Regions from separate parts of the Homo sapiens genome. Here region 2 is linked to region 1. Evidence: fine-mapped expression QTL. A gene starts in region 1. The other region holds a variant in brackets. All regions are shown on one strand. Distances are from middle to middle.

Region 1 (12,041 bases):
CAAAAATGTGGCTCATGCCTATAACCCCAACACTTTGGGAGGCCAAGGCAGGAGGCTCACTTGAGCCCATGAGTTCAAGACCAGCCTGAGCAACATAGGCCATCTCTACAAAAAAAAATTTTTTTTAATTAACCAAGTGTGTTGGTGCATGCATATAGTCTCAGCTACTCAGGAGGCTGAGGTAGGGGGATTGCTTATACCTGGGAGGTGGAGGCTGCAGTGAGCTATGATGGCACCATTGCACTCCAGCCTGGGCAACAGAGTAAGAACCTGTCTCAAAAATAAAAATATTATATCCATAACTCTGGAGGTGTTGATTACCAATGCTCACTCCTTCTACCAACCTCACAACGTGGGATCGAGTGGAAATGAAAAAACCTATTGTGTGTTTACTGTGTCCCAGGCACCGCACTACATAATTTATTGTCATAATCTCATTTATTTTCCCCAAACAACTCTTTGTATGCTATTAGCCCATATTAGAGATGAGGAACTTGAGGATCAGAGAGGATAAGTAACTTGCCATCAGTAACATGGGTGGCATAGGAAGGGTTTGAACCCATGCTATAGATTCCAGAACCCATACTCAAGAGCAGTGCTGTTCAAGAGTGATCTGGTACTGCTCTATGATGAAAGAATGGGAACTGAGAGTCAGTGCTTGGAAACTTTTATAGCAGCTGGGCATTACCACAACATTCAAGCACACAGTCCGTGGTCTTGATTCACTGAACAGAATATAGACCAGTTTGGGTGACGTAGAAGTCTCCAATAAGTCACTTGTGGCAGAGGCTGTTTTCTGGTCATGCACAGTAGGACCACTCAATGTTCACAGCTCAGAAGTCCAGTCTTCACCACAGATAGTGTGAGAAGCCTCACCTTTATGGTGGAGCATCTGCCCTGTGAACTGCAGTGTCCCCGGAATTAGTACAAAAGATGCTGTTAATCAACAATGCTGCTGTTAATGGAAAAGATACCTTGTTTACACTGACATATGAGGCCCCAGGGCAGGTCTGTGTGTCACCCATGGCACTGTCCGTGCTTTGTACACGGACATTCTCAGTATCTGTCTCCCTGCTTCAGTGAATGAATGAATGAATTGACAGATGAATGAATATACATTTCTGTTGTAGCAGAGCAACTAGCTGGATGGCCTTGGGCATAGCCACGAATTAGGCAAAATTTCTCTTTAGTCTTTTCCTGCCTGTACTTCTAGCTCCTGTCTCCTCTGGCTTTTTGCCTCTGCCCAATCTTTTCAGTGCCTTCAGGGTGCTCTCCTGGCTGCCCGGGACCCCACACGCCCTCCTTTTCCTACAAATGATGCGCTACTCTGGGACTTCACCGCCCAGTTCTCTAGCAGTTTTCCAGCAACTTCTCAGTTCTGAGTCTCTTCCAGGGGACGTCCCTCTAGCTGGCCGTCCCCCAGGTAGCAGGGCTCAGCCTTGACTGAGATAACACACAGCTTACGCAAGTGGGGGTTGTCCCTGCTGGTTCTGAGAAAATCAGCAAAGCTTTCTACTCAAAGCATGATGTGGGCTGATAAAAAATAAATAAGCAAATACATTTTTAAAATCAGCAAAGCTTCTTGTTTAATTATCTTAAGTTTCAAGGTACATGTGCGGGATGTGCAGGTTTGTTACACAGGTAAATGTGTGCCATGGTGGTTTGCTGCACCTATCAACCCATCACCTAGGTATTAAGCCCAACATGCACTAGCTATTTTTCCTGATGCTCTCCCTCCCGCCACATCCCCTGACAGGCCCCAGTGTGTGTTATTCCCCTCCCTGTGTCCATGTGATCTCAATGTCCAGCTCCCACATACAAGTGAGACCATGCGATGTTTGGTTTTCTGTTCCTGTGTTAGTTTGCTGAGGATAATGGCTTCCAGCTTCATCCAAGTCCCTGCAACGGACATGATCTTATTCCTGTTTTTGGCTGCATAGTATTCCATGGTGTATACGTACCACATTTTCTTTATCCAGTCTAACATTGATGGGCATTTGGGTTGATTCCATGTCTTTGCTATTGTGAATAGTGCTGCAATGAACATACACATGCATGTATCTTTATAATAGAATGATGTATATTCCTGAAAATACTATACTGAATGCTGGCGTAGACGCAGTGAGACTGGCATTGTCATACGCTGCTGGTGAGGATAGCATGTGATACATTTCTAGAAAGCAGTTTTGTGATATGCTTCAAGAATTTTAAAAATTTACACCCTTTAACCTAAAATTATACCTTAGATGTTTATCTGAAATAATCAGAGATCTGGCAAAATGTGTATGTACAGAGATATTTATCATAATACTATTTACACAGTGAAAAAGGAAATTCAACCTACATGGGAATGATTAAATTCAGTCACCATGAAATTTTATGCAGTTATTTAAATTATGTTTTTGAATTACTTTTAATGACCTGGTAAGATACTTATTAGCTATTATAAGTTAAAAAAAAAGGCAGGGTTCAAAAATTTTAAATAAAATTTAATTTAAAAGTATGTGCATATAAACATACTGATCATCTGTCTGAGTGATAGATTCAGGGTGGTTTTATCCCTTTTGGTATTTTCTAAATATTCTATAATATGCACAAATGTATTTTTATGTTCAGAAAAAAATGTAGAAGGATTTTTTGAAGTCTTTTCCAGTTCTGCAGACAGAGCCCTTCCAGGCCTGCAGCCCCCCTCTCACTGCAGGATGCTCTGATGCAGGTCGCTGCTGGGGGCATTGCCCTGTATTTGCCAGGAGCCAGCCTTGAGCTCTGTTAGCCTGTATTCTGGCCCTGGTTTTACCACTAACTGGCTGCAAGACCTTGGACAAGTCATTTTATTTCCCTGGGCTTTGAGGGTCCTCATTTATAAAATGAAGCATCCGGATTTGGTGATCTTTAGGGATTAGATTCTGATTCTGTGATTCCGGTAAACTCAAGAAGTCCAGGCATTTATTGTGAATAAGTTTCCATGATTTATCCTTTTCCACTCTATGTATCTTAAACAGGGGATTCTTATCTGAAGCTAAAGGAATGAATCTCTAATGATAGATTCTCACATCAGGCTGTGAGTCACCTATACTTAAACACAGACCTAATAGTTTTCTGCAACTCAGCACCCTAGGCATTATCTGTCCCTGTCCCTTCGGGACAAAAAGGGGAGGAGCTGAGAGGGCCAGGGACCCTTCCACATCAGCCTCCAGGCCTGAGAGGGAGAGGAGGGGTGTCTCTCTGAAAGCTTCTTGCTCGTCCCTGCCCCCTCCCCCAGCTGTTTACTGCTGTCTGCTTCCTTCTGTCTCCATCCTCTTCCCTATGGGTGAGTTGGGCTTATGTCATCATGGTTCCCTGGTGGGCTGGTGGCTCAGCCACCACAGCCTGGGGAAGGAAGGGGTATGACTCATGCCCCAGATCCAGTGAGTCAGGCAGGGTGGGCTGGACCAGGGGTTTCCTAGGACAGGAAGCAGGTTCTAGGTGTGCCTTAACTTCTTCCTGGCAGGAGCCCTGCCAGGAGAAGGTATCCATCTCTTTCCCATTCCCATTTCTGTGAATTCATTCAAGAACCCCTCCTGCCAAAGAAAATGCCACTTCTTCTAAGCCTCAGAAGATTGTGTCTGGGTGGGGCCAAGACAGCCTCTTTGAGGAAGGAGATGGATAGACCACAGTTAGAGCCGAAGAGGATGAGAACTTCCCAGCTCAACCTCTCAAGTCCTGGCTTTCAGCCCAGCTAGGTTTCAGAGCTGGGACAATTCCTTAGGAGGCAAGAGTATTTGCAATGCCCTGGAGCTGCATAACCTTGGGCAAGTTATTTAACTACTTGGATTCAGTTTCCTTGACTGGAAAATGACATAATAAACACCTCATGGGGTTGTTGTACTTTAGATAAAACCTAGCACCTACTACTACAGGCCTGGCTTCAGAAGGTGACCAGCTGATGTTCATTCTGAATTGGAATGGAAGCCCCACTGCTTTGGGGCTTCCTGGGAAGTCTGAAGGCCAGTTAGTGCAGAAGGCTAGAGTGGGCCATTGGGCTGGCACGCAGTGACCCAGACCCTGCGAGTTTTCCTTGGGGCTGGCAGGTGGGAGTGGGGTTGGGGGGATGTAATATGTCTACTACAGACATGTAGAAGCAACACTGTGTCAAGAGCTCCAGGGCAGGGACTGGCCTGGGAGCTGGCTTCAGTCTGGTTCTGAAAGGCACCCCCCGCCTTCCACAAGCTGGTTCACCTTCTTCCTCTCTAGAGCCTTCTCTTCCCTTACAGGCATCTGAGGGCCTTTCCCATGCCTGGTGAAGAGTCCTGACAGGGCCCTTCAAACTGGAGCACAAATAATATGGACCGGCCCCATGACTCATGCCCACAATCCCAGCACTTTGGGAGGCTGAGGCAGGAGGACTGCTTGAGCCCAGGAGTTCGAGACCAGTCTGGACAATATAGTGAGACCCTGTCTCTATAAATAAAAATAAATTTTAAAAAAATGTGTGACTGTGTTCTAAGGATTGTTAGACAGAATCAGTACTATTTGACTGAGTTTCCTTCTGTTCCAGGCTCCAATATGGCCTGATAGAACATTGTTGTTGATCCTATCTATTTAAAATGTTAGCATTTTGTTCATCGTGGATTTTTTGACATTAATTTTGATTTTAAAAAATGCATTAAAATATTATTTTTCTAGGTCTTACACGGTGGCTCTTGCCTGTAATCCCAGCACTTTGGGAAGCCCAGGCCGGAGGATTGCTTGAGGCCAGGAATCAAGACCAGCCTGGGCAACATAGCAACACCCTATCTCTACGAAAAATAAAAATAAACCAGCCAGGCATGGTGGTGCACTCCTGTAGTCCTAGCTACTTGGGGAGCTGAGGCAGGAGGATCTTAAGCCCAGAGTTTAAGGCTGCAGTGAGCTATGATCACACCACTGCACTCCAGCCTGGGTGACAGAGAAAGACCCTGTCTCAAAAAACAAACAAAAAACCCCAAAAAACCAATCATCTCTCTCTATATATAATTTGTCTAGGTTACTGGACTCCTTGGTGCCCCCTTAAATTTTGTCCTTAATGATGGAATTTTCGGCTTCATCTTTTTTGAGGGAGCGGGGTATATCCTGCGGACAGGGGGCCCTGCAAACTGTGCCTGCCGCCTTAAAACTGTGACCTTCCTGTTACTGAGAGGTCTTCTCTGCCCCCATCAGAGGCCAGGATAAAATTCCCATACCAGTTTCGGCTCACCCACTGTCCCATCTCCTACTTGCAATGAGCTCAGGAATGGCTCCAAATCCTGGAGTCCTGTCGGTTATGTTCAATTCGATAAGCGTTCCTCGAGGGCAATGCGCTAAGTGCCCGGGAAGCACCTGGCGAAGGACGCTGAGCAGAGAGACTGGAACAGTGAGGGGCGCGGGGCGCACCTGGATGGGGCGGGGTTGGCCGCTCTGTACCTGGAGGACCAACCACCGACCCTGGAGCACCTTTGGGTGGAAACGTCACGTCAGAAATCCCGACTTGGTCTGACTTCCTGCCCCGGGGCCTCAGGCTCTGGACACGCGCCAGGGAGGCGTCGCCCTGCCGCGTCGGAGCTGCTTCCTGGGCGCCGTGGGCGCGGACTGCGCGGGCTGCGCGGGTGCCGAGGAGCGCGAGGCGCGGGGAAGGCGCACCTGGGGTGGCCCTGGCGTGCGGGCGGCGACATGGAGGACGGCGTGCTCAAGGAGGGCTTCCTGGTCAAGAGGGTGAGTGCGCGTCGAGCTTCGGGACATTGCCCGGGTGGGGCCCCGCCGACGCGGCTCCCTAGAGCGGGGCCAGACGCGCGCCCCGGAACGGGCATGCTCTGGTTCCCATCCCCAACCCCCATGGTGGGACCGGGCCGCCTGTGGCCCTGATGGGCAGAGCTGCATGTCCGAGGGGACGCGGGGTAAGCGGTGGCTCAGCGCACAGGCAAGGAGGAGAATCCCACTTGGTTAGCGCAGTATGGAGTCGGGGCAGGGGTACTGAAGCGTGTGTCTTAATTAAAACTTGTTAAAATATTATGAATGGTATGATATTTAAATAATATTTACTAAGATAATATAGGCGTGCTCTGTAATTTACAACCTGTGAAGGAGGAATGCTACTATGTGTCTTAAGCACTTACTGTTGGCCAGCCCTGGATATTGTCTCATGTCATCCTCCCAGCAGCCCTGCTTTCATCAAGGGGGAAAACGAAGCCCAGAGGAGTTAGGGAACTTGCTCGGGGCGGTGAAGGCAGTGGGTGGTGGAGCCAGGATCGGGATCAGACCCACTCAGGTTGACCCAAACCTTTACTGCCTCCCCAGTGCCATACACGGTGGGTACTGACATCACTCTATTACAGACGGGGAAACTGAGGACCAGAAAGATGAAGTAGCTTGCCCAGAGCTCCAGAGCCAGTAATAGCTGGGACAGGAACTGCATGTTCTGACCTCCCCTCCTCAGTCCTTCCCCACCACCCCAGGTGGCCCAGGGCAAACGAGTGCAAACAAAAACTCAGTGCCTGGGATTATGGTAGAAGATGAACAAAAGAGCAGCTGCAAAAGGAAGTTTGTTATTTCAAAATTTTTTCCTGATTTGACCTTTTTTTTTTTTTTTTTTTTTTGAGACAGGGTCACCCAGGCTGGAGTGCAGTGGCACAATCCTGGCTCACCACAGCCTCGACTTCCCAGGCTCAGGTGGTCCTCTCACCTCAGCTTCCCTAGTAGCTGGGACTACAGGTATCCACTACTATGCCCAGCTAATTTTTGTATTTTTTTGTGGAGACAGGGTTTCGCCATGTTTCCCAGGCAGGTCTTGAACTCCCGGGTTTAAGTCATCTGCCCACCTTAGCCTCCCAAGGTGCTGGGATAACAGGCGTGAGCCACCACACAGAGCGTAATTTGAACAATGACATTAACACTAACCATTTATACTGCTATGATGGCATAGCAAAGAGACATATAAATCCAGGGCTGAGCTTTCTGGTTCTTCTACTGAGTTTTCAGCTTTGGGAGGGGAATGAAGAGGGATGAGGGGCCCTTCCTTTCATTGCCTCCCGGGGTGGCTGGATCAGCCCTAAAGTCTCACATCACTTTCATTTTCCCCACAAAATGTGTCCACATGATGTTGCACGTTATTTGGTACAGGAGAGCGGTGGCTGTTTGCTGTAAACAGTAAGCAAGGAGGGTAGAAGCTGATGCCAGATCAAGGGTCAGACTGGATAGAGCAGTACAAAGCGCCACGCCCACTTGCCACTGTGGCTGAACTGATAGGCCGGTTTCTCGCAGCATGTGGAGGTGGCTGCACCTCAGACTACACATGGGGAGCTCCTAATCTCACATTTAACTGCGGCTTGGGAGGTGGGAGGGAGAGTGAGAGCTGGGCACGGGGCTTTTTGTTGGCACTGTTGATATAGCTGGGCCCTGGTAGAGCCTGTGGAGGGATGAAGTTAACATGGAGACAGATCCTTCTGATAGAGCTTTGGGAGTTTTGGAGGCCTTCTCCTGTTCCTGGGGGTTACCTTCCATCATTCCCTATCACCCCCACCATGCTGAGAGTCAGAGGAGGGCTAAGGGCAGAGCCACAGAGCTCCCAGGATATCACCAGGAGGATGGGACTTCTCTTCTGGGTGGCCTGGTTAGGGAATCCAGGGTGCAGAAAATGAGGAGAGTCAACAGATCTGGTCCCCGTAAGCCCTTGGAAAAGACGGGGCTTGGCTGAAATACCTAGAGCTCATTCCAGCCAGACCCAAAGACTGGGATGGAGCCTGACCCTGAGGCAAGCAGAAGTCACACCCCTCCCTGCAGGCTGAAGGATAGGGCCCCAGAACCCTGTTGTGGTCCCAGTCTGCTGAGTAATCCCAACTTTTTCAACCCTCCATATCCCCTCTACTCTTAGATGGCAATAGCATTCCCTATGTCCACTGGAGAAGTTGCAGGCTGTGGCAGGGGGATTCCATAGTCTTAGGAGAGTTAAGAGCTCAGAGGTGGGGCAGGGCCTGCGTTGGAAGCCGGAGTGCAGAGCAGTCATCACCGGTGAAAGCGAAGCCAGAGACAGGCAGGGACATGATAGAGTTGGCTCTTAATCCCACCCAGACGAGAAAGAAGCAGAGTTCCAGGCAAAATGCAAGGAGCTCACTGGGCCTGGCTGTCAGGGGAGTGGGGAGAGGGAAGTGGGGGATGAGCCGTGAGCAGGAGTGCTTTTCCTGGGAGAAGAGACAGAAGCACTGCCGGGCGTTCCTGCTGGGCTCATATTGTGAATAACATTGCAATGTGAACATGCTCTGGCCTAGAGATTTTATGTGCAGGGCTCTATCCTTTTTTGTAAAGCTCTGTAAAAGCTTTATAACAAAGAGTTATTTTTATTTTATTTTGTATTTTTGTAGAGATGAGGTCTCACTCTGTTGCCCAGGCTGGTCTCAAACTCCTGGCTCAAGTGATCCCCTGGCCTTGGCCTCCCAGAGTGCTGAGATTAGAGGTGTGAGTCACCACACCCCCCTGTTACTTATTTATTTTGTTTAGAGAGGGTCTCACTCTGTTGCCCAGGCTGGAGTACAGTGGCATCAGCAAGGCTCACTGCAGCCTTGACCTCCCAGGCTCAAGCAATCCTCCTGCCTCAGCCTCCCTAGTAGCTGGGACTACAGGTACATGTTACCACACCCAGCTAATGTTTTGTTTTTTGCTTTTTTTTTATTTCTTTTTTTTTTTTTATAGCGACAATGTCTCACCATGTTGCCCAGGCTGGTCTTGAACTCCTGGGCTCAAGCGATCCTCCCACCTTGGCCTCTCTAAGTGCTGGGATTATAGGCGCCTGGCCAATAAAGGATCATTTATGTGGCGAAAAAACTGAAAACCACCTGTCTGTCCCCACCAAATGACTAATTAAATTATGGTTATGCAGATGTTGAATATGTTTATAGTATTAAAATCCGAAGAGTAAAGTGATAAAATGTATGAGTAAAGAAAAAATATGCGTAGAAGAAAAAGAGCAGAAGGAGTTCTGGAGGCTAGAGGTGCAAAATCAAGGTGTTGCCAGGGCCGTGCTGCCTCTGAAACTTGTAGAGGAGGATCCTTCCTAGCTTCTGGTGTTTGCAGGCAACCCTTGGCATTCCCTGGCTTCTAAATACTTCAGTGCAACCACTGTCTCTGTTGTCACGTGACCATCCTCTCCCTATGTGTCTCTTAGTGTCCAAATTTTCCTCTTCCTATAAGGACACCAGTCAATTGGATTAGTGCCCATTCTAGTCTAGGGTGACTTCATTTTAACTTGATTACATCTGCAAAGACCCTATTTTCAAATAACATCACACTTACAGGTCCAGAGGTTAGGACTTCAGTGTATCTTTTTTGGGGAAATACAATTCAACCCATAGCAAGTATCATCCCATCTTTGTTTTTTCTTTTTTTATTTTATTTTATTTTATTTTATTTTATTTTATTTTATTTTATTTTATTTTATTTTATTTATTTATTTTGAGACCGAATTTTGCTCTTGTTGCCCAGGCTGGAGTGCAATGGTGCAATCTCGGCTCACTGCAACCTCTGCCTCCCAGGTTCAAGTGATTCTCATGCCTCAGCCTCCTGAGTAGCTGAGATTACAGGCATGCACCACCACGCCCGGTTAATTTTGTATTTTTAGTAGAGACGTGGTTTCTCCGTGTTGGTCAGGCTGGTCTTGAACTCCCAACCTCAGGTGATCCACCCACCTGGCCTCCCAAAGTGCTGGGATTACAGGTGTAAGCCACCATGCCCGGCCCTCTATTTTATTTTATTTTCAAGAGACAATGTCTCAGTATGTTACCCAGGCTGGAGCACAGGGACTGTTCACAGGTGTGATCATAGTGCATTGCAATGTTGAGCTCTTGAGCTCAAGCGAACTTCCTGGCTCAGCCTCCCAAGTAGCTGGGACTACAAGTACACACCACTGGGCCCAGCTGGCATCTCTGCTTTTCTCAGGGTTATAGAGCCTTGGGCAAGACCTTTCTGTGCCTCTGTTTCCTTATCTTTAAAGTTAGGGGTCTGCCGGGTGTGGTGGCTCACACCTGTAAATTCCAACAATGTGGGAGGCCAAAGTGGGAGGATTGCTTGAGGCCAGGAGTTCGAGAGCAGCCTAGGCAACAAAATGAGAACTCATCTCTACAAAAAATAAAATAATTAGCCAGTCATGGTGGTACTCGCTTGTAGTCCCAGCTGCTTGGGAGGCTGAGATGGGAGAATCGCTTGAGCCCAGGGGTTTGAGGCTGCAGTGAGCTATGATCATGCCACTGCACTCCAGCCTCGGCAACCAAATGAGACCCTGCCTCAAAAACATTTTTTTTAATTAAAAAAAAATAAGGTTAGGGGCTGGGCGTGGTGGCTCATGCCTGTAATCCCAGCATTTTAGGAGGCCGAGGTGGGCAGATCACGAGGTCAGGAGTTCGAGACCAGCCTAGACAACATAGTGAAACCCCATCTCTACTAAAAATACAAAAAATTAGCCAGGTGTGGTGATGGGTGCCTCTAATCCCAGCTACTCGGGAGGCTGAGGCAAGAGAATTGCTTGAATCCAAGAGGTGGAGGTTGCAGTGAGCTGAGATCGCACCACAGCACTCTAGCCCGGGCGACAGTGCAAGACTCCGTCTCAAAAAAAAAGTAATAGTAATAAGGAATAAAGGAGGCTTTTTCCTGGGGTCTCTCCAGCTGTAACATTCTGTGTCTCATAAGCCCATCCCTGAGGTGCCATTCCAGCTTATGGGCCCCTCGTCCTTCTCTCCAAAAGGGATCCAGGGAACTCCAAGCACCCCCTGCTTCAGCTGGCCTCTGGTTCCAGCCAGCGGATTACAGACAAGAAACCTAAAAGAGAAGCTACTCTCTGCCCAGGGACAAGTGTCCAGGTGGAGGGAGGCCTGGGTTCTTCTTCAGCATACCATTGTGTTATCGGCCTGTGACTCACTTTGCCTGGTGATTTTAGACCAGTCACTATGCCCTCTGTGCATGGTGTGGTTTATCTGTAGAGCAGAACCGGTGGTGCTTTCCTGCCAGGTTCATGGACTATTCCAGCAGCCTCCAGCTGAGCTCCCCACTCCAGTCTCACCTGCTTCCTTTGGCTATTCTGTTCTGCTGCTGTGTTCGGAGTGATAGGTTTAACATGAGAACGTAAGCTTGCTGTCTTTCTGCTTAAAATCCTCCAAGGACTCCCCTTGAAGATCAAACTTTGTGGCACAGAACCTGAAGCCCTTGCCACCTTGGTCCCCATCACCTCCCCTATGGAGCCCAAGCCATATAGAACCACGGGGAGTCTCCCCAAAGTGGCAGGGGTCCTATGCTCACCCCTCCTTGACTTCCTGACCTGCCTAACTCCACACAACCAGGAAGACTGAGCCCCAGTATCACTCCTGGGAATGTACCTAACCCCACCTCAGCCTCTCCTGAGCTCCTCCTTGGGGTTTGTATCATGCCCTATATTAATTATTGATTGTTGTATAACAAATTATCCCAAAAGTTAGCATTTTTTTTTTTTTTTTGAGATGGAATCTTGCTCTTTCACCGAGGCTGGAGTGCAGTGGCGCCATCTTGGCTCACTGCAACCTCCTCCTCCTGGGTTCAAGTGATTCTTGTGTCTCAGCCTCCTGAGTAGCTGGGACTACAGGCACCCACCACCACGCCCAGCTAATTTTTGAATTTTTAGTAGAGACGGGGTTTAACCTTTTTGGCCAGGCTGGTCTCAAACTCTTGACTTTAAGTGATCTACCTGCCCTCAGCCTACCAAAGTGCTGGGATTACAGGTGTGAGCCACCGTGCCTGGCCAAGCATCTTAAAACAACAAGATTTGTCATCTCACTGTTTCTGAGGGTCAGATATCCAGTAACAGCGTAGCTGCAAGACTGGCTCAGGGTCTCTCGTGAGGCTGCAGCCAAGAGTGACAGTCACCTGAAGGCTTGACTGGCTGTAGGGTCCAATTCTGAGCTCACCTACATGGCTGTTGGCTGGAGGCCTCAGCTCCTCACCTCTCAATTGGGCTGCTTAGGATATGGCAGCTAGCTTTTCCCACAGCAAATAATCAGAAAGAGAGAGAGGGAGAGAGGCAGAGGGAGAAA
Region 2 (10,869 bases), 63 kb before region 1:
AGGATTCCAACCCAGGCAGTTAGGATCATCTGGGGTCCCTGAACTTAACCAGCTGGCCATATTGAGACCTGTGAGGCATGGTTTGTTGTTGGATGACACAGGAGGGAAGAGCCTGCAATAATTTTACATGACTTCAGGTTTCTTTGGGTTCATTTGCTTAGCAAATTCATTGAACACCTTCTATACACGAGGTATGAATACGGTGAATACATATTCATTCCACAAGCATTTTTTTTTCCTTTTTTGAGACGGAGTCTCACTCTGTCACCTAGGCTAGAGTGCAGTGGCGCTATCTCGGCTCACGGCAACCTCCGCCTCCCAGGTTCAAGCGATTCTCCTGCCTCAGCCTCCCGAGTAGCTGGGATTACAGGTGCATGCCACCATGCCCGGCTAATTTTTGTATTTTTAGTAGGGATGTGGTTTCACCATGTTGGCCAGGCTGGTCTCGAACTCCTGACCTCAGGTGATCTACCCACCTCGGCCTCCCAAAGTACTGGGATTACAGGCATGAGCTACTGCACCCAGCTTCCACAAGCATTTTTTTTTTTTTTTGAGACAGAGTCTTGCTCTGTAGCCCAGGCTGGAGTGCAGTGGTACGATCTCGCTCACTGCTACCTCCACCTCCTGGGTCCCGGTTCAAGCAATTCTTCTGCCTCAGCCTCCCGAGTAGCTGGGATTACAGGCACACGCCACCACGCCCAGCTAATTTTTGTACTTTTAGTAGAGACAGGGTTTCACCATGTTGGCCAGGCTGGTCTTGAACTCCTGACCTCATGATCCACCCACCTCAGCCTCCCAAAGTGCTGGGTTTACAGGGTGAGCCACCACGTCCAGCCTCCATAAGCATTTTTAAGATGAAATTTTAGTTTTATAAAAGTTATACATGCTTGTTAGGAAAAAAAAGTATGCAGAAAAATATAAAGAAAAAAAGCACATATGATATCACCATCCAGAGATGATTGTTGTTTAATTTTTTTGTATATGTGCACATATGCATGCCTTTGCAGAATCGGAGTTAGGTTGAATATTCAGTTTTGAATCCTGCTTTTTTCTCTTACCACTATCTTAAACAAGCATTCCTCAGGAGGCTGCTGGTGCTGGCGTTCAGATGAATCCAGTGAAGCAGAGTGCTCACTATTACCACAGAGAAGGGAGGGTGCAGAAGTGGGAAGACAACTCTGGAGTCAGGGTGCTTAGGAAAGTCCTCACAGAGGAGGAGCTGGGTCTTAAAGGAGGGTTCACCGGCCCTGGGTGGGGCCCAGGTAGCAAAAACAGCAAGGTAGAGATCTGGAGGACAGGATTGGAGGCAGGGACGAGTTGTGAAGGGCTTTGCCAGCCGTCCCCAGGGGTTTGAGCTTTATTTACTCTGTAGATGTTGAAGATCCACTCATGGGCTTCAAGTGGTGAGAAACATCGGATTTGCATTTTAGAAAGGTTGCGTTTTTTCTACACACTCTTTCATCCTGTGATGAGTGAATTAGAAGGAAGAAGGCAAAGCTGGGAGACCTTTGGAGTCATCCAGGTGAGACATGATGAGGGCGTGAACCAGAGCAGTGGCAGCAATGAGAAGAGTAATGAAGAGGAGGGGATGGATCCCAAAGATATTTAAGAGGTGGTAAGGGTGGGAGTTAGTAGCTGACTTGGTGGCTTTCCCTTGGCCAGTGGGATGATGGTGGGCATGGCTTAGCCAGGGTCTTGAACCACACTTGTACAGCTAGCCTTGCTCAGCTTTGTGCCTCTGCCCTTGCCATGAGAAGAATATGCCCAGGCAAGTCCACTGGGCCCCGGAGGAGGATGAGAGACAGGTGGAGTGGAGCTACGCTGCCCCAGCCGTCTGCCAACCACAGACATGTGAGCTGTAATAGTAGACGGTAGTTGTTTTAGGCCAGGGTTTTTGAGATGATTTGTTATATGGCGATTGCTAACTAAGAAATGTCTTTATTCTTCTCTTGAATGCTTACTATGTGCTGGGCTTTGTGCCAGGCACTGGGAATACTATGCTGAACCAGGCAGGCAAGGCCCTCACTCTCAGGAACTCATGTTAGGGTGGGGATGTGGCAGAGGAAGCCAGACAGACTTTGAGACCGCTGGTTCTAACTGGGTGCATGGTGGTGCCATTAATTGGGGTGGGGGTCTTAGGAGAGAAACAGGTTTTGGGGAAAAGATAATGGGTTTGATTTTATTTATTTATTTTTTAGAGACAGAGTCTCACTGCATTGTCTAGGCTAGTCTTGAATTCAAGAGTTCTGGGCTCGAGCGATCCTTCTGCCTCTGCCTCCCAAAGTGCTAGGATTACAGGCATAAGCCACCACACCTGCCCATGGGTTTGATTTAGGAAAGGAGTTTGGGATGCCTGTGGGACATTAGGGGGAGCTGTCTAGGGAAGGGCAGGAGCTATAGGTGTAGCACACAGGAAAGAGGTCTGGCCGGGGACAGAAATTCTCAATATAATATTGAAAATAACCTGTAGCAAAGGGAGTGAGACAGAGTAAGTGCTGTAGAAATTCAGAAGAGGAAGAGAAGCCTTGGGACCTGGGGGAATGAAAGAGATTTTGTTCTGAAGGTAACCTGCAAGCTGGTTTATACTCATGGAAGTGAGAGGAGAAAGGCACGCCTAACAGAATGAATAGGACCTGCAAAGGCATGGAGATGAAAGACAGGAAGAGCTGGATTGTGAGGAAAAGGCTGAAGATGTCAATCGGGGCAAGGTCATGAAGAATCTTGAATGGCAGGCCAAGGATGCTGTTGTGTTTCATTAGGAAATAAGGAGATATCGAACATTTTTTTTTTTTTTTTGAGATGGAGTTTCGCTCTTGTTGTCCAGGCTGGAGTGCAATGGTGCGATCGCGACTCACTGCAACCTCCACCTCCCAGGTTCAAGCGGTTCTCCTGTCTCAGCCTCCTAAGTAGCTGGGATTATAGGCGCATGCCACCACATTTCAGCTGAAGCAGGCCTGGTCACATTAATACCTACCCATCCATTGTTTTTTTGTATTTTTAGTAGAGACAGGGTTTCATCATTTTGGTCAGGCTGGTCTTGAACTCCTGACCTCAGGTGATCTGCCCATCTCCGCCTCCCAAAGTGCTGGGATTACAGGCGTGAGCCACTGTGCCCAGCCACTATCGAGCATTTTTGAGCAGGGGAGAGACATTTGGTACGTATGTCTAAGAGATGGGCAGTCATGTGCAGGGGATGAGTTCTGCAGTAGAAAGCAAGAGATATTGGTTCTAATCTCAGCTCTTCCATTTACTGGCCCTGGGATATGGGGTAAATAATGTCCCCTCTCTGAGCTCTGTCTCACTGCAAAAAAATGGGAGTAAAATTTTCTGACCTTCACATGAATCTTTTTTATTTTATTTATAAATATATTTTTTGGAGAGGAAGTCTTGCTCTGTTGCCCAGGCTGGAGTGCAGTGGCATGATCTTGGCTCACTGCAACCTCCGCCTCCTGGGTTCAAGCAATTTTTCTGCCTCAGCCTCCCAAGTAGCTGAGACTACAGGTGCATGCCACCACACCCAGCTAATTTTTGTATTTTTAGTAGAGACAGGGTTTCACCATGTCGGCCAGGTTGTTCTCAAACTCCTGACCTCAGGTGATCCACCCGCCTCAGCCTCTCACAGTTCTGGGATTACAGGTGTGAGCCACTGCGCCCAGCCTGAATTTTAATTATGTAAGAACCATGACAAAATGCGAACGAAGTGCTTGGAAGACCACAGAGCAATGCACAAGGCTGGGTAGGTATTAATGTGACCAGGCCTGCTTCAGCTGAAATGTGAGGCTGGAATTCCCAGACAGGTGTGCATACTACAGATGCCATTTCCTTAACCTCTGTCTTTTCTCCCACCTTGGAGAGGGGATCGACAGAGATGTGAAGCCATTAGCAGCTGGCAGAGCTGGGATTTATGTTCTCAAGCCCTACCTTCCCATTCTTGATGCAGTCCCACACCTCCCTCCACATGAACAGGACATGTCATTTAGAGAGGGCCTGCCCAGGACGGGCCTGCGTCAAGGCCACAAAGCACTGGCCTGTGCAACAGTCACTATCCTCAAGGAGTTCACATGCTAGTTGGATCATGAGAGCACATACCTCAAAAAGCCATTGGGGTGGCACCTGATAATGGGCCAGGTAAGTGGTGCAGACAGTCGCTGGTGGAGGGTGAGGAGAAAGTAGAGAGAAGCAGCATGGGAGCCGGGCGTTGAAGACTGGTGGGGTTTAAAAGAGGGGAGGGGAAAGGAGCCAGAAGGACTGGGGAGGACTCTTTCCTGTGTCAATCCATTGGTTTCCCCTCAGCACTGAAACCAAACACCAAAACCCCATTTAATGGAGCAAAGACAAATGTGACCACAATGAGAGAACCACCTCACACCCATTAGGATGGCCATTATAAAAACAAAACAGAAAATAACAAGTGTTTGGGGTGGATGTGGAGAAATTGGAACCCTTGTACATTGCTGATGGGGAATGTAAAATGGTGTGGCCACTGTGGAAAACAGCACAGTGGTTCCTCAGAAAGTTAACCATAGAATTACCATATGATCCAGTATTTCCACTTCTGCATATGTACTTGAAAGAGTTGAGAGCAGGGACTCAGACAGACCTTTGTACACCCGTGTTCATAGCAGCCTTATTTTGAGTAGCCAAAAGGTAGAAGCAACCCAGGTGTCCATCAATGGATGAATGGATAAACAAAATATGGTGATATATACAATGGAATATGATTCCGCCTTTAAAAGGAAGGAAATTCTGGCTGGGCACAGTGGCTCACGCCTGTAATCCTAGCACTTTGGGAGGCCAAGGCGGGCGGATCACCTGAGCTCAGGGGCTTGTGACCAGCTTGGGCAACATGGTGAAACCTCGTCTCTACTAAAATTCAAAAATTAGCCGGGCATGATGGTGTGTGCCTGTAGTCCCAGCTACTCAGGAGTCTGAGACAGGAGAATCGCTTGAACCCAGGAGGCGGAGGTTGCAGTGAGCCAAGATTGCGCCACTGCACTCCAGCCTGGACGACAGAGCGAGACTCCGTCACAAAAAAAAAAAAAAAAAAAGAAGGAAATTCTGACATGTGCTGCAACATGGATGAACCTTAAAGACATTAGGCTAAGTGAAAGCTAAGCCAGTTATGCTAAGCCAGTCACAAAAGGACAGTGTTTGTATGATTCCACTTATATGAGGCACCCAGAGTAGTCAAATTCATAGAGACAGAAAATAGAATAGTGGTTGCCAGGGGCTGAGGGTATGGGGAATGGGAGTTTGTATTTAATGGATACAAAGTTTCTGTTTGGGACAATGAAAAAGTTCTGGAGATGGTTGGTGGTGACAGTTGCACAACAATGTGAATGTACTTAAGACCACTGAATTGTACACTTACACATGGTTAAAAAATGGCATGCACACACACAAGGACAAATGTGATGAGTCACTTACATCTCAGAAATATGAGTGACATGGAACTGTTTGAGAAGAAGTGGAGGAAGAAATGGGGTCCCCAGTGGATAGGCCTGCTGAGAAATCAGCAAGTAGTCTAGAAATGGGGCTGATTGGTGCAGCAGGCCAGCCGACTCTTCAACTGACCACAGATAATCCAAAAAAGCTCTAGGGAGTACAGACACCTCCCTCTAAGTAGCATTTGGGTAGAGTTGCAGAGAAGTCAGTGGGGTGGGTGGGTTATTCTGTTCTTTGCTCTGTTTTTTTTTTGTTTTGTTTTTTTGGAGACAGAGTCTCACTCTGTCTCCCAGGCTGGAGTGCAGTGGCGCAATCTTGGCTCACTCCAACCTCTGCCTTGCGGGTTCAAGCGATTCTTCTGCCTCAGCTTCCCAAGTAGCTGGGATTACAGGAGCGGGCCACCACGCCAGGCTAATTTTTGTATTTTTAGTAGAGACGGGGTTTCACCATGATGGCCAGGCTGGTTTGGAACTCCTGACCTCAAGTGATCCGCCGCCTCGGCCTCCCAAAGCGCAGGGATTATAGGCGTGAGCCACCGCGCCCGGCCCTCACCTGTCTCTCTTGCGCC[C/G]CCCGCAGCCAGCCCCAGTCGGCGCCATGGCGTCTGCCGAGCCCCTGACGGCGCTGTCCCGCTGGTACCTGTATGCCATCCACGGCTACTTCTGCGAGGTGATGTTCACAGCGGCCTGGGAGTTCGTGGTGAACTTGAACTGGAAGTTCCCTGGGGTCACGAGCGTGTGGGCCCTCTTCATCTACGGCACCTCCATCCTCATCGTGGAGCGCATGTACCTGCGGCTGCGCGGCCGCTGCCCGCTGCTCCTGCGCTGCCTCATCTACACGCTCTGGACCTACCTGTGGGAGTTCACCACCGGCTTCATCCTGCGCCAGTTCAACGCCTGCCCCTGGGACTACTCCCAGTTCGACTTTGACTTCATGGGCCTCATCACCCTGGAGTACGCCGTGCCCTGGTTCTGCGGGGCCCTCATCATGGAGCAGTTCATCATCCGCAACACCCTCCGCCTCCGCTTCGACAAGGACGCTGAGCCCGGGGAGCCCAGCGGCGCCCTAGCCCTGGCCAACGGCCATGTCAAGACTGACTGAGCAGGAAGCGGGTGGGGGGCCTGGGGATCTCTCATGGAACTCATGGACAAAGAGACCAAGCTGGTGAGGTTGCCCCATCCATGCAGCAAAAGCCCTGCTCCGGCCAAGCCTCAGCCCTATAGGGCACACAGAGCCCCCTAACGTCCGCGGGGGCCGGTGTTGGGGGGCCGTGGTCAGGTGTTGGGGGATGGGGTGTGGAGGCAGCAGAGGGACATTGGGAAGGGTCCATGGATCGCGGCCCAGTTCAGGGGTTGGTACCAGGAGGCCTGTGGCTGAGCAGCGATGGACTATGTAGTTGACTTTGGAAGCAGCAGGCCCTGTCCTGGCCAAGGGACAATGAGAATGGGGCCGCAGGTGGGAGGCAAGGCCTGACCTCCCTCCCTCCGATCTGGATTTAGTTGAGCTTTGGCTGGTTCCATTAGGCAATATTCAGGTGCTTGCTTGCAACCAATACCTCCCCAGGGGCCTGCTGAGCTGCAGCCGAGGAGAGACTGGGCAGCCAGGAGGCTGCGTGGCAGCAACGCTGGTCTGCAAGGGCTGGGAGACCCTCCCTTGGCTCCTCTCCCCTCCCCCAGGGCCCTGCGCTGCTCCCTTGGCCTTCTGGGGCCCCCGTGGTGCTGGATTCCCACCAACCTTGGGCTTTTGGAGGTTTCAATCCCCGTGTGTTCGGTGGCGTTTCCCCCTTTTCTGTCTTGTTTTCAAAGCCTTTACCACTAGCGGCTCTTTATCCACGTCGGTCGCCACACCTGCCCCACCCCAGCTCCCTAGCCAGCACAGGAGCTGCCGGAGATGAAGCCCTGAGACACCCCCAACCCTCACCCCCTTGCAGCCCTTCCCTCCACTGTTCCGGCTGGCCTGATGCCTGGGGAGTTCCTGAGTTACACCTCCCTACCCCCGGTCTAGTGGGCTGTGGCAGTGCTCCCTTCTCAGTGGCTCAGCTGAGAACAAATGATGCCCTCCAATGCACAGGCAGGCTGGGTTAGGCCCTGTGGATCCACAGTGGGGACCTAGAGGCAAGTCAGTTTGGTGGGGAAAAGCCAGAGTTCTAGGTCATCTATTCCCTGCCTGGTTTATTTTCAAGCCAAAACTGAGCAGTCTAGCTTTCTATGGGATGGAGAAGCCAGGTATCCAGCATTGGAGACTGATGGAGAATGAGAGGAAGAAAGAGAGGAGGACCTTGCAGCTGTGGAAGGCTCCTTGGAGCCTCCTTTGTGGGAGGGTATCAGTTCTGGTTCTGCCAGAGCCTCAGCCCTGGTAGCAGAACCTCAGGGCTGCCCCTCTCCCCAAACTCCTCCCAGCAAGGCTGACCCTTTGAGCTCACTCCTTAAACAGTATTAACCCTGCCACACTCATGGGCATTGGCACCTTGGTTCCCCTGCCCCACTTTGTCCTGTGACAGGTCCATTGCTGGCAGTGGACAGGTGAAATACTCACTCCAGCCTACTTCCGGCTCTGACTCTCACTCCTCAAGGGGAAGGGTCCGTTAGAAAGTGGCCCACCCCATGGTACATGGTCTCTTCTTGACCACACTAGGACTCTTAGGTAGAAATTAGCCTTCCCCTTTTTATGGATCATTACAAAGTGACGGTATCACCTGTGGAGAGAATGTCCTCTTCCCTGCTGGCTGCCCTGCCCATACTGTGCAGGGTGTGGTGGGGTGCAGGGTGTGGTGGGGTGGGCCACAGTTGTGTCCTAGGTCTGGAGAAAAGCTTGCAGACTCTGCCTTTGGCAGGATTTTCTGCAGTTAGCCCCGTCCAGAGCAGAACGAAGGGTATTTCCTAGCCTATTTCCTGGGCAGGCTCCTCAAATCCAGGGATGAACTACTTTCTGCAGTGGCCAGCCCTCCTTTTGATTTTATTGTGGCCCCAATTCCAGGGCTTTGGGGGTTACAGAGAATCAGGCTTCCGGTGGGAGTAGATTGTTTTCCATCTATAGGTGGAGAAAATTCCAGGAGGAGAATATTGTCTGGCTTCCCCGTTCTCTCTGGGCAATTGTTTCCTTGGTTCTCTCTCCAACTCCATGTTGTCTTAGTCTCCCAGCACCCCTTCAGGCCTTCCATGTGGGCCCCTAGACCACACTACCCACCTTCACACTTGCATTCCACAACTCAGTCCAGTGGCCAGCTTGTTGATGCCTCCATAATTCTCAGCCAGAGCAAATCCTTGATTGGCCCACCAGGTCTTGCTGCTCCAGAAGTTGCCTTGTGGGCATTCCCTGGCACCATTTCCTCTCTGGGTCCTATACTTTCCCAAGTGCAGGAGGTCCTGGGGGTATGCCTGTGTGCCTGGCAACATCCAGCATTGTGTTTCTGCTCCATCTAGGTGTCCCATTTCTCCAGTTGCCCCTCATAAGGCATCAAACCTCCAGCAAAGGAAGGCAACAACCCATGGCCTGACCACGGGATCTACAGGTTCAGATCTCACCAGGGATAGCCCAGACTTCAATTCTTGCTTTTTTGGGTATCAGGGCCCCAATCCCTTAGTGGCCAGGGACTCAAAGTTTGGAATAATCCCAGCCCTGCCAAGCATTAAGGGTGCTGGTGGGGAGTGTTTGCTGGCTGTTCATGAACCTCTGGTGTCCTGGGCCTCTCTCCACTAGACATGGCAGCATCTCTGAGTTACAGATTGCAATGTGTTGCCCTGCATGGTTGAACTGCTTCGGACATCTGCTAGGCATCCCATGTGCCCTGTCCCCTCTTCAATGCCAGTGAGTCACAATGGCCTATGCTTATTCACAGCAATAATACCTAGGGAGTCCCCATGAAGCCCTTTTGTCCTGGTCCCTCACTCTGCGTGGGTCTCCTGGGGAGGCAGCTGCTGAGTGGGTCAGTTCATGAGAACCTGCATTTATGAAGCCCTGGGCTGTGTAGGCATCACCCTGGGATGCAGACAGGTTAGAGGCCCAGCCCTTAGGGGAGCCATGGCAGGGAGAGTGCCTTCCACCCTGAGGCCACCCAGACCTGGAGGAGATGCAGGCCCCAGCTCTGCTAAAGGGCCTTTGAGGTGGGTGGGACTGTCTCCCAGTTGGGCAGCTCTTGAGAAGGACACACGACCGGTTTGTGCGCCCATTGCCTGCTCTGTGTCTCCGTTGGTCCCTCTGTCTCTTCCTTTTCACATTTGTGCACATAAAATATACTGGTGTTTGTGTTCCAGGACTGGCTCTGGCCCATCTGTTTTTCCTCTTTTGGAGCCACTTTCTCAGGGGCTCCTGGAGGCCAGGCCCTTTGCACCCTGGCATCATGCCCTCCTGAACTAAGAGGGCTGCTGGGCGGGGCTGCCCTGTGGAGGGGGCAAGTGACACTCCCTGCCAATCCTTCTTGCTGTCTCTACTCTGACACTCTCTGGTAACCTGAATTCACACCCTGACCCCAATTCTCAGGTGGCATAATGTGATCCAGGCCTTACTTTGGTGCCACGCTCCCAGGCAGAGGGGGATCTCAGGCAGTATCCAGGTTGACTGCAGGTTGGCTGCAGTTGCCCATGAGACGAGCTCCTCCTGGAAACACCAGCCATGACCTGAGACATCTCATGAGGCAGGAGGGACCAAGCAGGGTGGCTGAGGGTACCCCCAAAGACATGGAAGGCCAGAGCCCTTTACTTTGAAAGTGATGTTACACTGAAAGTCATGCTTCGAAAAAACAGCTCTGCACTCCTCCCTGGCAGCCCTGTTTTGTTGGAGAAGTGCATTTGGAGGGAGTAATCTCTCCCCCTTTATGTACCTCTGCTCCATTGAGCTTCCCTGTCCTCCCACCACCACCACCACCACCACCACCAGGCCGCTGCCCACTTTCCTCCTTCCAGGAAGAGGATGGAGGGTTCAGAAGTTGCTCAGTCAGGCTGGGCATGGTGGCTCACACCTGTAAACCCAGCACTTTGAGAGGCTGAAGCAGGAGGATTACTTGAGCCCAGGAGTTTGAGACCAGCCTGGGCAACATACAGAGACCACCATCTCTACAAAAAAAAAAAAAAAAAAAAAAAAAGCCAGGCATGGTGGCACACACTTATAATTCCAGATACTCAGGAGCCTGAATCAGGAGGATCACGTGAGCCCAGGATTTGGAGGTTGCAGTGAGCTATGATTGCACCACTGTATTCTGGGTGACAGTGAGACCCTGTCTTGAAGTTGCTCAGTAATTTCAGCTAAACGCAAATGGCATGGGCCCCCTGTCACAGCTGGGTTATAGAACACCCACTGCTTTTCTGGATGGAGTAGACAGTGTGCTTTCTAAATCATCGGGAGGGCCCTCTGCCTCCCTCACTTGAAGGTTTTCATTTCTTTGGCTGAAAGCTTTTTCCCTTATGAAAATGAGATAGCATAAATCCCCAG

Which allele goes with the higher level. Positions count from the first base shown, and alleles are read on the strand shown. Sizes are in standard deviations (SD) of each study's normalised expression.
For the expression in cerebellar hemisphere of the gene that starts at base 5,562 in region 1, allele G in region 2 goes with a higher level than allele C (large effect, 1.1 SD a copy in GTEx).

Evidence for each region.
Region 2: its variant is fine-mapped to the expression of PLEK2 in cerebellar hemisphere (GTEx, PIP above 0.99). The same link has a PIP of 0.9 or more in anterior cingulate cortex and cerebellum.

The regions. Positions count from the first base shown.
Region 1 is chr14:67,405,686-67,417,726 of GRCh38, reverse strand. It overlaps PLEK2 (pleckstrin 2), which reads left to right and starts at 5,562. Exons shown (of 9, transcript NM_016445.3): 1 at 5,562-5,709. The coding sequence starts at 5,668. It also overlaps a transcript of GPHN not described here.
Region 2 is chr14:67,469,094-67,479,962 of GRCh38, reverse strand. TMEM229B (transmembrane protein 229B) reads left to right here. Exons shown (of 3, transcript NM_001348543.2): 3 at 6,022-9,694. The coding sequence starts at 6,040. The coding sequence ends at 6,543. It also overlaps a transcript of GPHN not described here. Among named protein-coding and RNA genes, the nearest start is that of TMEM229B, 14 kb to the left of the region's middle. The variant C/G (reference allele first, on the strand shown) is at 6,014.